2 separate regions of the Homo sapiens genome follow, and region 1 is linked to region 2. A link means that fine-mapping ties the variant in region 2 to the expression of a gene that starts in the linked region. Tissue or cell type: whole blood. Region 2 holds a variant in brackets; the other region holds the start of a gene. All regions are shown on one strand. Distances are from middle to middle.

The links. PIP is the estimated chance that this variant, and not a neighbour inherited with it, causes the effect.
Region 1: ACBD4 starts here. The variant in region 2 is fine-mapped to the expression of ACBD4 in whole blood (TOPMed, PIP above 0.99).

Annotation. Positions count from the first base shown.
Region 1 is chr17:45,132,147-45,140,146 of GRCh38, forward strand. It overlaps ACBD4 (acyl-CoA binding domain containing 4), which reads left to right and starts at 3,541. Exons shown (of 10, transcript NM_001135705.3): 1 at 3,541-3,807; 2 at 3,962-4,086; 3 at 4,354-4,474; 4 at 4,546-4,630; 5 at 4,873-4,993; 6 at 5,222-5,308; 7 at 5,614-5,684; 8 at 5,767-5,842; 9 at 6,875-7,014. The coding sequence starts at 3,999. It overlaps PLCD3 (phospholipase C delta 3), which reads right to left and starts at 369. Exons shown (of 15, transcript NM_133373.5): 1 at 102-369. The coding sequence starts at 264. RefSeq lists silencers at 173-302, 403-622 and an enhancer at 1,093-1,162.
Region 2 is chr17:45,164,890-45,172,889 of GRCh38, forward strand. HEXIM2 (HEXIM P-TEFb complex subunit 2) reads left to right here. Exons shown (of 4, transcript NM_001303441.2): 4 at 4,126-5,146. The coding sequence ends at 4,920. It overlaps HEXIM2-AS2 (HEXIM2 antisense RNA 2), which reads right to left and starts at 6,596. Exons shown (of 2, transcript NR_135646.1): 1 at 6,075-6,596; 2 at 3,916-5,441. RefSeq lists enhancers at 5,488-6,446, 6,533-6,827, 7,405-8,000 and a silencer at 6,993-7,287. The variant C/G (reference allele first, on the strand shown) is at 3,146.

The sequences.
Region 1 (8,000 bases), 33 kb before region 2:
CGTGCAGCCTGGGGAATCCACGAACTGCTCCCTGGAGCGCCCCAGACTGGGCCTCTGGGAACGGTCCGCGCCCACCCCACCGCCCCTTGCCCGTCACTGACCCATCTTCTTCAGCGCCCGCAGCCCGGGCCTCTTGGTGCCGCCATCGGAGGGAGTCGGCGGGGACGGGAGAGCGACCGGCGCCGCGACTTGGGCTGCGACCTGGGCGGCCACCGGGGGCTCCTCGGGCGGGCGGCGGCAACGCCTCCAGCGGCCGCACAGCATGGCTTGGCGGGGGGCCGGGGCCGGGCCCGGGGTCTGCACGCGGGGACAGGGCAGCGGGGCGCCGCTCTGGCCCGGCCCCGGCTCTGAGCGAGGCGGCGAGCGAAGAAACTTAGCGGCGCGGGAGGGAGTCGGAGGAGGCAGCAGGAGGTGGGGCGGGGCGGGGCGGGAAGGGAAGGGGGCGGGGCCGGGGCGGTGCGAGGGCGGGGCCAGGCGGTGGCCTGGAAGCCCGGAGCCTCAGCGCTCGCCCCTGCTCGTGAGTCCGTCTCCCCTTAGTCCGGGCGAGCCTCTGATCTTGGCCGCAAGGGTGACTAGAGCCCCCATGCTGCGGGGCTGGGGGTGGGAGCCGGCACCGGGGACGAGGGCCATCCTCTGGCACAGACACCCTCTCCTTCCCGGGGGCCCTGACTCGAGGCTGACGCAGGACCCCCTCCTCCTTCCCTTCCGCGTCCCCGTCGCGCCGCAGGCCTCAGCAGGGAACCAGAGCCGGGACAGGACGCAGGGCCGGGAGCGAAGGCAGAACCCCGGGAGCTGAGCCGCTCGGGGCAGCGCGAACCCGAAGGGATGGGCATGGGGGTGGGGAGGTTGGCAGTGACGTCATAGGATTAACCTCCCTGTGCCAGGCCAGGTGCTGCCCCCTCGGAGAGCCACAGTCTCGGAGCTGACGGACCTGGGGAGCGTGAGGCGGAGCCGAGCCTGGAGTCCCCAGCAACTGGTTCTGGGTTCGAGGCTTGGACAGGCCGGCACCCCAGCCCGGCACCCGCGGTGTAGTTGTCCGCGACGTCAACCCGTGGGTGGGCATCCGTGTGCAGGTTCTGGTGGCCGAGTCGGGTGTGCACTTACTATTTATATGCAAGCACCAGAGTGCGTGCGCGAAGTGGGGGACGTCCAGGTGGCAGCGTTTCTGCGGCCGGTGGCCTGGGTCCGGCAGAGACATGGGCGCACACCGCCACTTTGCGGCGGCCAGCGGCGTGGCATCCTACAGAGAGGCTAGTGCTCAGGGCCTGATTTGCCACCTACTTGCCCTGCTCTACCCCATCCTCAGATCTCCCAGGCCCAGAGATTCTGCACACTGGCTTGGGTCCCTACGCCACTCTGGGGTCCTGAATTTTCTTTTTTTTTTTTTTTTTTTTTTTTTTTTTGAGACGGAGTCTCGCTCCGTCGCCCAGGCTGGAGTGCAGTGGCGGGATCTCGGCTCACTGCAAGCTCCGCCTCCCGGGTTCACGCCATTCTCCTGCCTCAGCCTCCCAAGTAGCTGGGACTACAGGCGCCCGCCACTACGCCCGGCTAATTTTTTGTATTTTTAGTAGAGACGGGGTTTCACCGTTTTAGCCGGGATGGTCTCGATCTCCTGACCTCGTGATCCGCCCGCCTCGGCCTCCCAAAGTGCTGGGATTACAGGCGTGAGCCACCGCGCCCGGCCCTGAATTTTCTTCTTGATTATCGTATTCGCCTTTGTGCTTTTGATCCTGCCGTTCCTTCCTCCAGAAACAACCTTCCTTATTCTCCTGGTTTACCCTTTTGTTATTCTTGTTGTTGGATAGGCTAAGTCTACATTTCTTTTAATTGTTATGGACACTTAATAGTTGCAGAGAATTATGGAGAGGCATGTAATGTTTTGATACAGGTATAAAATGTGTAATGATCAAATCAAGGTAATTGAAGTAACCATCACCTCAAGCATTTATCATTCCTTTGTATTAGGAACATTCCAATTCCGCTTTTAGTTATTTGTATTTGTATTTTATTTGTTTATTAGAGACAAGGTCTCACTACTTGGTTGCCCAGGGTGGAGTGCAGTGGCATGATCATAGCTCACTGCAGCCTCAAAGCAATTCTCTTGCCTTGGCCTCCCAAAGTGTTGGGACTACAGGCCTGAGCCACCACTTCCCGCCCAGTTATTTTGAAATATACAATAAATTGGCCGGATGCGGTGGCTCACGCCTGTAATCCCAGCACTTTGGGAGGCAGAGGTGGGATGATCACTTGAGGCCAGGTATTGAATGAAGACCAGCCTGGGCAACATAATGAGACTTCTGCCTCTACAAAAATTGTTTTTAAAATAATTAATTTAAAAAGATACAATAGGCCGGGCGCGGTGGCTCACGCCTGTAATCCCAACACTTTGGGAGGCCGAGGTCGGCGGATCACGAGGTCAGGAGATCGAGACCATCCTGGCTAATATGGTGAAACCCCGTCTCTACTAAAAAATACAAAAAATTAGCTGGGCGTGGTGGCGAGCGCCTGTAATCCCAGTTGCTCGGGAGGCTGAGGCAGGAGAATGGCGTGAACCCGGGAGGCGGAGATTGCAGTGAGCCGAGATCACGCCACTGCACTCCAGCCCGGGAGAGAGTGAGACTCCGTCTCAAAAAAATAAATAAATAAAATAAAATAAACAAAATAAAAAGATACAATAAATTATTGGTAACTATAATCGTTGTATTGTGCTACCGAACACTGGATCTCATTCATTCTAACTGTATTTTTGTACCCATTTCCCCCCCTCCCCAGTACCCTTCCCAGCCTCTGGTAACCATCATTCTGCGATGTCCATTTTGCTTACTCTTTTTTTTTTTTTGAGATGGAGTCTCACTCTCGCCCAGGCTGGAGTGCAGTGGGGCAATCTTGGCTCACTGCAATCTCCACCTCCCGGGTTCAAGCGATTCTCCTGCCTCAGCCTCCCGTGTAGCTGGGATTACAGGCGCGCGCCACCACGCCCGGCTAATTTGTGTATTTTTAGTAGAGATGGGGTTTCACTATGTTGGCCCGGCTGGTCTCGAACTCCTGACCTCAGGTGATCCGCCCGCCTTGGCCTCCCAAAGTTCTGGGATTACAGGCATGAGCCACCGTGCCCGACCATCTTCCAAAACTGAGCTGTGATGTCCTTCCTCTAGAACACCTGACCACAGGACATGACTTTTTTTAATCCCCAGTGCCTAAGTGTCTAGAGAGCTGAGTGGGTTGCCTCGGATCGGCCAGGCCTGGATATCAGCGAACAGATGCGGATTTCCACCAGGGGGCGCTAGGACGCCACGACCTTTCACTATGTGCACCAGGGGGCGCTGCCGCCCGCCTTGGCCATCCCGGGCTGGGAAGTCCGACCCTTCGATTAAGCCCCGCCTGATTGGGAAAGGCTCTGAGAAACTATTTGCATGATCTTGAAAGAGCTGTGCTGAATGGTTGAGGTAGGTAAGCCGAATGTGAAACAGGCTCTCTCATTGGCCTAAATTCCCCCCCTCGATCTGCGTCGCCATCCCGGCCCTGCTGGACCCCGGGGTCAGTAGGAAGCCGCGGGGTGGTGGCGAGAGAGGACCCAGGTGTCCTGGCAGTGGGCGCCGCGGGGCACACGCTGGGCCAAGGTGCAGGCGGCCAGGGTGGGAGACTGTTCGCCCCGCCCTGAGTACTCCTATCTTGTTTCTCCACCTGTTCGGGAGTTGGAGATGTGCACCTAAAGGAGGCGCATCTGGGGACGGACACATCTGGCACTGAGGCCCTCGCCACCTGCCTCGCCACCTGGCGACCCTGACCCCACCACACTGCCTTGAGGTAGGAAAAGGAGGCTCCTCAACCACAACTTCTGACCTCCCAGGGTGTCTGAGGCCTCTAAAGAGCTTAGTTTGCCCCTCTGGGAAGTGAATCCTTGGCTTATGGTGCCGGGGGGACCCTGGAGGCCCCCTCACACGAAGGCTGCTTCTTGCAGAGTCGCTCAAAAGTAGGGCCCCAGGGCTCGCAGCAGCATGGGCACCGAGAAAGAAAGCCCAGAGCCCGACTGCCAGAAACAGTTCCAGGCTGCAGTGAGCGTCATCCAGAACCTGCCCAAGAACGGTGAGGCTGCGGGGACTCGCATTTGGACTCGCATTCAGGACGCCTGGGGTCTGACTCTGAAGAAAGAATGGTCCTGATCACTGCAGTTTTTGCAGACAAGCCCCTGCCTGGGCTGTCCTGGGGGTTCCCTCCGCTTCCTATCCTAGTCCAGATGCCCTGGGTGGGACCCATCACCACCTCTGCCCTTTCCAAGCAGGGTTCTCCCGCCCCTCCGCCCCTTGGAGCTGGGAGTGATGCTTTGCCCTGGCTTCCCAACTCTCTGCCCAGGTTCTTACCGCCCCTCCTATGAAGAGATGCTGCGATTCTACAGTTACTACAAGCAGGCCACCATGGGGCCCTGCCTGGTCCCCCGGCCCGGGTTCTGGGACCCCATTGGACGATATAAGTGGTGAGCTCCCTGCTGGCTGGGCAGACAAGCCTCAGCTGTCAAGCAGCCCTCTCACAGCCCTCTGCCCCCAGGGACGCCTGGAACAGTCTGGGCAAGATGAGCAGGGAGGAGGCCATGTCTGCCTACATCACTGAAATGAAACTGGTGGCACAGAAGGTAAGGGCTGCAGGTTCTCTGTCCCCAGGCTCCTGGCCAGGTGGCCTCACCCTTCCAGTTCTGACCCCCACTACGTTTCCTACACATGGACCCCCTCATGGGAATCACCACCTTCATGTTACCCCCAACCCTGCCTATCTTTGGCCCCTGACTGGGCACAGGGTGGAGGTGTGTGACAGGGCAGGAGCAGGGAGGAAGGGACAGGAGGCCACTCCGTCCCCAACAGACCCCCTCCCCTACAGGTGATCGACACAGTGCCCCTGGGTGAGGTGGCAGAGGACATGTTTGGTTACTTCGAGCCCCTGTACCAGGTGATCCCTGACATGCCGAGGCCCCCAGAGACCTTCCTGAGAAGGGTCACAGGTCAGACTCCCAGGCTGGGAGCTCCAAAAGTGCTGAGTGAACCGTCTTAGGTCTAGGCTGAGGTGGGCTGGGGGCAGAGGGCTCCAGGCGACATCCCTGTTAGGGCCCCCAAGCCCCCGAGAGGTGGATCCCAGGCAGCATCCACGGCTCATCACGAGTAGGGGCTTGATCACACTGGGAGGTGCCAGCCTCTCCCCAGGCCCACCTCTGGGTGCTGTGTCTTGGCAGGTTGGAAAGAGCAGGTTGTGAATGGAGATGTTGGGGCTGTTTCAGAGCCTCCCTGCCTCCCCAAGGAACCGGCACCCCCAAGCCCAGGTTAGTGCTTGAGCAGGAGGGGTGGACCAAACTCAGGCTGGGGGAGGGCTGGAGGGGAGAAGGCTGGATGCCACGCTGTGCCCTCCACAGACACTGAGACTTCCTGTGCTCCCAAAGGTGGGGACCGGGGTCTAGGATTCCTGTTCCAGGGCCTTGCTTCTGGCGCCCATCTGTGCCTCAGGTGTTGATATCTCTAGTGCCTCGTATCTCTAGTGTCTCCTAAACAGGTGCTTCTGCCCAGTGCACACTCCTGCTCTCCCTCCACAGCTTCCCTCTGGGCAGTAACTCTACCAACCCCTCCACAGAGTCCCATTCACCCAGGGACCTGGACTCCGAGGTTTTCTGTGATTCCCTGGAGCAGCTGGAGCCTGAGCTGGTGAGCCCAGTCCCCATTCCCCCCTTTTCCCACCCCACTGTGCTCCCACTCCCACCCTCAGCTCTCTGACTCATCTCAGCAGGTTTGGACAGAGCAGCGGGCAGCATCTGGAGGAAAGCGTGATCCCAGGAACAGCCCCGTGCCCCCCACAAAGAAAGGTGAGCTCCTACCCAACCTCTCACCCACTTCTGCCCTTTCCCGTGGTCCTGGCACCCCAGGCTTTCTCTTGGCTGCCTTCCTAGGGCAGAGTTGAAAGTCCATTGCTGGGCACTGAGCGAGAAGCCTCTGTCCAGGAAGGGCTGCCAACCAGCCAGATACCTGCCTGGATGGGCAAAGTCCCCGCCCTCCCTCCTCTCCCCAAAGGGCACCCAGGAGTCTGCACCCTCTGCAGGTCCTGAGTAAGGCCAGCGGGATGGGAGTCCTAGCCCAGTTCTCCCACCTACAGCTGCACAGCCTCAGGAAGTCATCCATATTCTCTGGACTCCCCCGTTTGGAAATCTCAGAAGACAATGAGTTCTGCCCTCTTCCCTTCTAGAACTCCTGTTGTGTGTCAGGTCCTGTATGGACATTTTGAAAAGTTTCTCCTTTTTTCCTCTGAGCAAGCAGCCCTGTGAGAGAAATGACATCTTCTCCTAATTTTTAGATGACAAAATGATGCCCAGAGAAGTTAATGACTTTGGCCGGGCACGATGGCTCACGCCTGTAATCCCAGCACTTTGGGAGGCCAAGGCAGGCAGATCACCTGAGGTCAGGAGTTTGAGACCAGCCTGGCCAACATGGTGAAACCCTGTCTGTATTAAAAATACAAATATTAGCCGGGTGTGGTGGGCACCTATAATCCCAGGTATTCGGGAGGCTGAGGCAGGAGAATCGCTTGAATCCAGGAGGCGGAGGTTGCAGTGAGCCGAGGTCATTGTGCCACTGCACTCCAGCCTGGGCAACAGAGCAAGACTGTCTAAAAAAAAAAAAAAAAAGGTAATGACTTGATCTGTGTCATAAGCGGCCATGCTGGGATTAAACCCATAGCAGCCCATTACTCAGCTACATAGATGGACTTTGCAAGAATCACACTTGGTACAGCGACTGGGTTCCACTCCTACACTTTCCTGGGCTTGCCCCAGCCTGCCCCCACCCTGCCCAGAGCTGAATTGCCTCCTGAGCCCCCTTCCCTGTGTGTCTGTGCTCCGCAGAGGGGTTGCGGGGCAGCCCGCCGGGGCCCCAGGAGTTGGACGTGTGGCTGCTGGGGACAGTTCGAGCACTACAGGAGAGCATGCAGGAGGTGCAGGCGAGGGTGCAGAGCCTGGAGAGCATGCCCCGGCCCCCTGAGCAGGTAGAGTCCCCCACCCCATAGGACAAGATGATGGCAGAATCCGGTCTTTATTCTGGGCTCCTCTTCCAGCCACTTTTGTTTTTGTCCTCACGCCTCCACCTGCCCACATCTCTCTCCAGAGAATGGCATGGCTCCTGCTACAGGCAGGAGGTGGGGGTGAGGGTGGAGGGGGCTGACATGCTTCTACTCTGAAGGCACAGTGGGTGGGGCCCTTTGCCGTTCTCCCCTCCCTCTGCCTGGAGAGAAGCTAAGCCTCAGGACTAATCCCGTGTGGGAAGGGCCATGATGTGTCTGCTCTGGGCATTGAGGATGCGGGTCCCTATTGCCCCTCAGTCAGGACTTCCATTCCCAGAATTAGGATTTGCCCCAAATGGTTCAGCCCTTGCATCCCTCTCCTCAACTCCTAGCTCTGCTTGCCTCTGACACTTGGGATCCTGGGCTCCTGCAAACTAAATAACAGCTGCCATTGCTGGAGCCCCGCTGGGTGCGAAACACTCATGGGCATCTTCCCACTGAATCCACACAACAGCCCTATGAGATAGAGTTTCTTTTCACCTCCCTTTTAGAGAGGGAAACTAAAGCTCCAAGGGGCTAATTTGCCTGAGGGCACACAGCCTGGGAGAGCCTCTCTGAGCTACTGTGAGGATTCAACCATGCATGTTGGTGCTTCAGTGGTGCCCACCAAACAGAAAGCCTTCTCCAGTCGGTTCTGTTGCTACTATTGCTGTTAATATTAACATTAAGCGATGGAGTTGGCAGTGGCCCCTATTCTGTCTCCCTGCAAAGCTGGTACCCACCATTAACTCTGAGTGGGTCTGTTCTTGAAAAGCCTGAGGTAGTGGGGGCAGAGAGGGCTGGGTTCCCAGATGTGAGGCATCTCTGGGGTGACCGCTAATCCACTCAGCACAGCAGGTGTGAGCCCACAGCAGCAGGATTTCCTCAGATCCACGATGGCTAACTTTTCAACACTGCTCCTCCCCCTCAAC
Region 2 (8,000 bases):
TTTCTGGATTGACTGAATTCGGAATTCATGACATGTCAGGGCTACAATGTTCAGCCAGGTCACACAGCTTATCTACAGTAGTGGTCATGGTGGTAGAGGGCCAAGTCTTCAGGAGGGAGGCAGCAGGTAGGGCTAGGGGGCTGGGCTCGCTTGGGTGAGGGTGGAGGATCAATAGGGCACTTCTACTGAGGGCTGGGAGCATGTGACTGATTGTGCACACCAACAAGCCACCATGCCTTGGCATCCCAGTGGCCTTGCCTGTCCCAGCTGGGGCAACAGCTCTGTCTTATTTGGCCCAAGCCACTGGTGGAGACAAGGGCTATTGCTTTTATTTCGTGATCTCCCTGCAGGTGAAGTAACACAACAAACTCCACATACGTACACACCCCACACACATACACACCCTGACATACCTCCTTTTCCCTGAAATTCTCTTCGGGGTCTGCAAAACACACATGACATATGCCTGGCTCTTAAGGGCCGCGCATACACCACATTCCTCAGTACACACCCTGTGTGCATGGACCACGCTCACATGTCTCTGAACTGCGTTGCATATTATTCAACAACATACCAGTGGTAGTGGTTATTATTAGAAATTGCCCAAACCACAAACTTAGAGCAATTCATTTCCCATCTCCCACACCCAGTACTCCCACCCTTCCCACAACAGAGATAAACAGATGCCCTGAACATACACTCTCTTGACAGCCTTTATACCTCTTAGATAAGTTCTGGAACTCTCTCACTGCAGACTGGAGGCTGACCCTCCCTCTCTTTGGAGAGGATCTCTTTCCTGCCATTCATATTGGAGAGTGATACCACCTACCAACTTCTGCCTGGAATAAATATGTTCCATCATTTTATTTTATTTTATTTTTTAATTTAATTTAATTTAATTTAATTATTTTATTTTATTTTTTGAGCCAGAGTCTTACTCTGTTGCCCAGGCTGGAGTGCAGTGGCGTGATCTCGCCTCACTGCAACCTCCGCCTCCCAGGTTCAAGCGATTCTCCTACCTCAGCCTCCCAAGTAGCTGGGATTACAGGTGCGTGCCACCACACCCGGCCAATTTTTTTGTATTTTTAGTAGAGACGGGGTTTGGCCATGTTGGTCAGGCTGGTCTCAAACTCCTGAACTCAGGTGATCTACCTGCCTTGGCCTCCCAAAGTGCTGGGATTACAGGCGTGAGCCACCACGCCCGGCCCGCTGCATCTTCTTTATGCCAGAAGGATAGAGAAGGGGAGTCTTTTTTTTGAGACTCCAGCTCTGTCACTCAGGCTGGAGCGCAGTGGCGCAATCACAGCTCACTGCAGCCTCAACCTTCTGGACTCAAGTGATCCTCCCACTTCAGCCTCCCAAGCAGCTGGGATTACAGGTGCTCACCACCATGCCTGGCTAATTTTTTGTAATTTTTGGTAGAGATGGGGTTTCGCCATGTTGCCCAGGCTGGTCTTGAACTCCTGGGCTTGAGCAATCCACCCTCCTTGGCCTCCCAAAGTGCTAGGATTACCAGCGTGAGCCACTACACCCGGCCGTAAGTCTTATTTCCCAATATCTTTTGGATCTCCCTATCCTATAATCTTTAGTCCACTTAACAGATATTTACTGAGCACTGCCCTTGTGCTGTGCATAGGAATATAGTGGTGACTTGGACAGACAGACGAGATGCGTTCTCACATGAGGAAGACAGATGTTAAATGGCCATATGCTAAATGCTATGTGCTAACTGTGTGATGTGATAGAATCACTAGGGAGGCGAGATGGGGGAGTCTACATTAGGTAGGGTGGTCAAGGAGGGGCTCCCTAAGGAAGTGACATTGGAACTAAGCTCTAAAAGATGAAAAAAGGTAGCTGGCAGTGGTGGCTCACACCTGTAATCCCAGTACTTTGGGAGGCCGAGGCGGGTGGATCACTTGATGTCAGGAGTTTGAGACCAGCCTGGCCAACATGGTGAAACCCCATCTCTACTAAAAATACAAAAAATTAGCTGGGCATGGTAGTGGGCACCTGTGATCCCAGCTACTCTGGAGGCTGAGGCAGGATAATCGCTTGAACCTGGGAGGTGGAGGTTGCAGTGAGCTGAGGTCGGGCCACTGCACTCCAGCCTGGGTGACAGAGCAAGACTCTGTCTCAAAAAAAAAAAAAAAAAAAGCCCAGGTGCAGTGGCTCATGCCTATAATCCCAGCACTTTGGGAGGCCAAGGTGGGCAGATTACTTGAGGTCAGGAGTTCCACACCAGCCTGGCCAACATGGTGAAACCCCATCTGTACTAAAAATACTAAAATTAGCCTGGCATGGTGGTACACGCCTGTAGTCCCAGCTACTCAGGAGGCTGAGGCAGGAGAATCGCTTGAACCTGGAAGGCGGAGGTTGCAGTGAGCTGAGATGGCAACACTGCACTCCAGCCTGGGCAACAGAGCAAGACTCTCACACACACACAAAAAAAAAGATGAAAAAAAAGCCATGCAAATAGCTGGAAGCAGGATCAGCTGCATAATTTGTGGGGCCCAGTGCAAAAGGGCACCTTATTCAAAAATTATTAAAAAGTTAAAGACAGTGGCCAGGTGTGGTGGCGCATGCCTGTAGATCCAGTTACTTGAGAGGCTAAGGCAAGAGGATTGCTTGAGTCTAGGAGTTTGAGGCTGCAGGGAGTTATTATTGCACCTCACTGCATTCTTGCCTGGGCAACAGAGTAAGACCCTGTCTCTAAAAATAAGAGTCTTTTTTGTTTGTTTGTTTGTTTGTTTGTTTCGAGATGGAGTCTCACTCTGTCGCCCAGGCTGAAGTGCAGTGGCGCGATCTCAGCTCACTGCAAGCTCCGCGTCCCGACTAGCTGGGACTACAGGCGCCCGCCATCACACCCAGCTAATTTTTTTTGTATTTTTAGTAGAGATGGGGTTTCACCACATTAACTAGGATAGTCTCGATCTCCTGACCTCGTGATTCACCCATCTTGGCCTCCCAAAGTGCTGGGATTACAGGTGTGAGCCACCTCGCCCGGCCTGTTTGTTTGTTTTTGAGATGGAGTCTCGCTCTGTCACCCAGGCTGGAGTGCAGTGGTGTAATCTTGGCTCACTGCAACTTCCGCCGCCCACATTCTCCAGCCTCAGCCTCCTGCATAGCTGGGATCACAGGCACGTGC[C/G]ACCACGCCCGGCTTATTTTTGTATTTTTCGTAGACATAGGGTTTCACCATGTTGGCCATCCTAGTCTCGAACTCCTGACCTCAGGTGATCCGCCCACCTCGGCCTCCCAAAGTGCTGGGATTACAGGCCTGAGCCACCATGCTGAGCCTAAAAAACTTATTTTAGGCCTTGCGCGGTGGCTCACACCTGTAATCTCAGCACTTTGGGAGGCCGAGGCGGGTGGATCACCTGAGGTCAGGAGTTTGAGACTAGGCTGGCCAACATGGTGAAACCCTGTCTCTACTAAAAATACAAAAAATTAGCCAGGCGTGGTGGCACGTGCCTGTGATCCCAGCTACGCGGGAGGCTGAGGCTGGAGAATTCCGGAGGCAGAGGTTACAGTGAGCCGAGATTGCACCACTGCACTCCAGCCTGGGTGACAGAGCGAGACTCCATCTCAAAAAATGAAATAAAATAAGGTTTTTTTTTTTTTTGAATAACATGTTTAAGAGAAGGACAGCATGAAGCCAGGTGTGGGGCCTCTGTGGGACTTCACAGGTCACCTGCCCATGAAGCCAGTGGTGTTTGAAAGTCAGGTTTTCTGGGAAGAGGGAAGAGCCGGTGCCATTTGGGCTTCTGATCAAGCAAATGCATCAAGATCCACCTTCTATCCCAGTTTTCTTCTTCTCCTACTTTACTCATTTGGACAGTATTTATGGAACTCCTACTCAGTGCCAGGTATTATTCTAGGCATTGAAATTACAGAGTGAAACACACAGGCAAAATTCCTGCTCTCACCATGAGTTTACTTGGGGAAGGTTGGGGGACAGACAGTAGACAGGTCTCTTTGTAAACAAATGGTTCCAAAAGGTTGAGGGGCTAAGAGTGACCAAGTTAGCTGAGTGTAGGAAGGTAGGCTTCAGGCTAGGTAGAGAGGGAAAGGTTCCACCTCCAAGGACAGGCTGTCTGATCCATCCTTCTTCCTCCTCCCTCTCTTTAGACCTCTGGTGCCCCGGGGAGCCCCCAAACACCCCCTGAGCGTCATGACTCTGGTGGTTCCCTGCCCCTGACACCGCGGATGGAGAGCCACTCAGAGGATGAAGATCTTGCTGGGGCTGTCGGTGGCCTGGGCTGGAACAGTAGGAGTCCCCGGACCCAGAGCCCAGGGGGCTGCTCAGCGGAGGCTGTGCTGGCCCGGAAGAAACACCGTCGGCGGCCATCGAAGCGCAAAAGGCACTGGCGACCCTACCTGGAGCTGAGCTGGGCTGAGAAACAACAGCGGGATGAGAGGCAGAGCCAGAGGGCCTCCCGGGTCCGCGAAGAGATGTTCGCCAAAGGCCAGCCCGTGGCCCCCTACAACACCACCCAGTTCCTGATGAATGACAGGGACCCGGAGGAGCCCAACTTGGATGTGCCCCATGGGATCTCCCACCCAGGTTCCAGTGGGGAGAGTGAGGCCGGGGACAGTGATGGGCGGGGCCGAGCGCACGGTGAGTTCCAGCGGAAGGACTTCTCTGAGACTTACGAACGCTTCCACACCGAGAGCCTGCAGGGCCGCAGCAAGCAGGAGCTGGTGCGAGACTACCTGGAGCTGGAGAAGCGGCTGTCGCAGGCGGAGGAGGAGACTAGGAGGCTGCAGCAGCTGCAGGCGTGCACCGGCCAGCAGTCCTGCCGCCAGGTGGAGGAGCTGGCTGCCGAGGTCCAGAGGCTCCGGACCGAAAACCAGCGGCTTCGTCAGGAGAACCAGATGTGGAACCGAGAGGGCTGCCGCTGTGATGAGGAGCCGGGTACCTAGGGGTGCCTCCCAGCCTGGTGGACCCAAGGAGAAGGTCCCATTTCGTGCACACTCAGGCCAGCTGGGTCTCAAGGAGGCAGGTGGCAGATGAAAACCACCGTCAACACCCTGTGCGCCCTGAGAACAGCTAAATCGGTTCAGACTCCCACCTCACCGTTTCCATAGTTGGCTCTTTTGTGTCATCTTACCCTTTACAGAGAAATTAAATGGCCTTGGTGGGACCAAATGGGAGTATCTAGGATTGATTTCACTAGGGCTGTTGTGAGAACCAAAACATTTGCCCCAGAGAGGTCTGAGTGGGGTCCCAGTCCCTGCTGCCCCAAGCCTGGCAGGACAGCAGACCTCTGGATGGGGACCTCCCAAGGTCTCCGGGATACCTGAATCCTGCTCTGTGGGTGTTGGAGCAATCAGACTGCACAGAAGGTTTTCTAGGTGGGAGGGAGTTCAGTCAGGAGCCCCCAGTTTCGGCCAGAAACTGACGCTCAAGATACCAGATCGCTGTGAGGAGTTGTGAGCTTTCCCTGGAGGAGAGAACGGGGGTTTTCGGAGAAGACCCAGGCCCAGGGGTTCCTTCAGAGTTTGCTCCTGAGCTCCCTGTATTCTCCCCACAGTTTAAAGGCTGGACTAGACGGGTTCTGGGTGCCTTGTGCCTCCTTGTTCTTGACAGCCCCCAACCCTGACCCCTCTCTGCAGGGGGTTGGGCCTGAGGTTAGTCATCATGTGTTTGTGTTTGTCCCTTACCTCCCAAGGGTAATAAGGGAGGCGCTCTCCTGATGGAAAATAAAGTCAAGAGACAGAGGGGGACAGCACATGGATCGCCAGCAGAGCAGAGCAGCCTGGCTCTCCTGGTGCCTGCCATGTGTCTGTGCGTCCTGCTCCTCTCAGCCTCATCATGTGGGTGTGAATTCTCTGAAGTGTGTGAGGCCCTCGCCTGTCTGCATCAGAGAGAGCTGGGTCAGCCTGGGTAACGCAGATACCACCAGCCAGCGTCAGGCTCTGAGACAAGCTCACCCACCCCCTCGCACTCAGACCCACCCTTCCCCAGACACCCTGTCTCTTCCATCCCCTCCTGGTGCCCTTGCAGACTGGTGTTGGGTGTCAGGCAGCAATGAACATGGACAACTAATGGTGGCGGAGGAAATTAGTCAACTCACCAGTGAGCCAGTGCTGGCTGTGCCACCAGGCAAGGGGAGGGGCAGAGGCCTGGCTGCCCAGTCTGGCTTCTCTTCCAGGCCGTCATCTTGACAGGCCACACTGGGCAAGATGAGGCTTGGCCCAGGAGCTGCTGGGGATGGAAATGTTGATGAAATCTTGTGTGTTGCCAGGACAACTTTCATTTCTATCCTGCCACACCCAGGCCTGGCCAGAGCCTCCTACAATGAAACACAGAACAGATTCTAGGAACGCATGGGTTTCAAGAGAAAGCAAAATCTCATCCTGGGAGACCTGCCCCTGGAACCCTGGGTCCTCAGACAGCTCAGTCAGGAAGGGCAGCAGGAATGATCATCGCCACTTTGCAGACGGGAAACCGGAGGCTTAGCGAGGAAGTGGCTTTTTGGATTCCAGGAGAGCCTCTGGAGGCCTGCCTGCCCCTGTGGGGTGCTGTGGGGTGCTAGCCTGGGACCCAGAGGCCCCTTGGCATTTGCTGGCAGCCTCCCAGCTGCATTCCTCAGCATGGAGCCCGAGGGAGAGAGGAGGCCTGGGACAAAGGTGGACAAAGGTTGTTTACCCGGAGGTGCCTCTGTGTGTGTGTGTCTAGGAGGTGAGAGAAGATTCCAGAGGGCTGCTGGAGTGTCGGGGGAGGGGTGTGGGTGAGGGTGCTGGGTGCTCATTGTGGGCTGGTTATGCCAGGGAGGGGCAGGTGAAGAGTTTGGCCTTTCTTGGCCCAGAAGCTGAGGAGCCTGGAGGCAGGGAAGCTGCCAGCTGCTCCTCCAACATCCCCCTTACACGTAAAAGGCTGAAGGGCGCAAATAGGGCAGCACCTCGGTGGGTTAATTCCCGCACCCCCACCTCACCCCGCTGGAGGGCGGGTGGGGCAAGAAGAGAACAAAGGAGAGGATGCTAGCCGGGAGTGTGGGAGGGCCTGAACCCAAATGGGAGGGGTCCGTGAAAAGGGTCCCTGTCTGCCCCTCCCCCTGTCTGGCTCCCTGATTCCTGGGTAAGGGGTGTGCAGGGAGGAGATCGTCCTGGGGCCAGAGCTGGGGCTTAGCACTGGAGAGAACCGGCTCAGCTGTGGGTGGGAGCCAGGCCTGGGTCCCTCGGTGCCCCGCCCCCTTCGCTGCTTCCAGTTGTTCCCACACCTGCTGCTTGGTCTTGAAGCCTGGGCCTCCACTCCGCCTACTGCAATGGTGGAAGCTCCAGTTTACAAGACACCCCCACCCCCACATCACACGCCCTAGCTGGGGAAGTTGGGCTTGGACACAGCCTCCCTGGGCCTTTCCACAGCTGCCCTCACGCCCTGTGCTTTCTGGGACCCTCTTGGTCAACTGGGCCGGGGAAGGGAAGCGCAGAGAACATATGTTTCATGGGAGTGACTGTTGAAGCCTCCCACCACCCCTGCCCAGCCTGTCTTAGGATCCCTCTTTCTTCCCCGGCAGGAACTGCCCGACCCCAGGTGGAAACTCCTGTGCCCAGTGGACAGACCCTGCCTGCAATAGGGTCAGAGTATGAGGGAGAGGGGTAGGCAGAGATTGGTGGGCTGGGGCAGGAAGAAGCTGCCAGGGAGTGGGGGGAGGGGGTCCAAAGGGAAGTAACGGTATTGGGGGGAAAGGTGGCCAGGTCCCATTGCCCTTGTTGGGAACAGGCAAGTGTGGCACTGGCCCTTTAAGTGGGGGTGCCAGTCAGTGCCCTCCCCCAACCAACCCAATTCATGGGCACACTGAGCATGTGCAGGGGCTGTGCATGTGGGGAGGGGAGGAGAGGGGAGGGGAGAGGGGGGCATACATTCCGGAGGGAGCTTCTCATCCCCCTACTTCCGGTAGCTGCCCCCACTCTCCTTCCTGGGTCTGACAAAGGAGCCCATGGTGCTCACCCAATCCCTTCCCCCACCCCAGGCCCCAGGGGGTGCTGCCCTCTGCAAG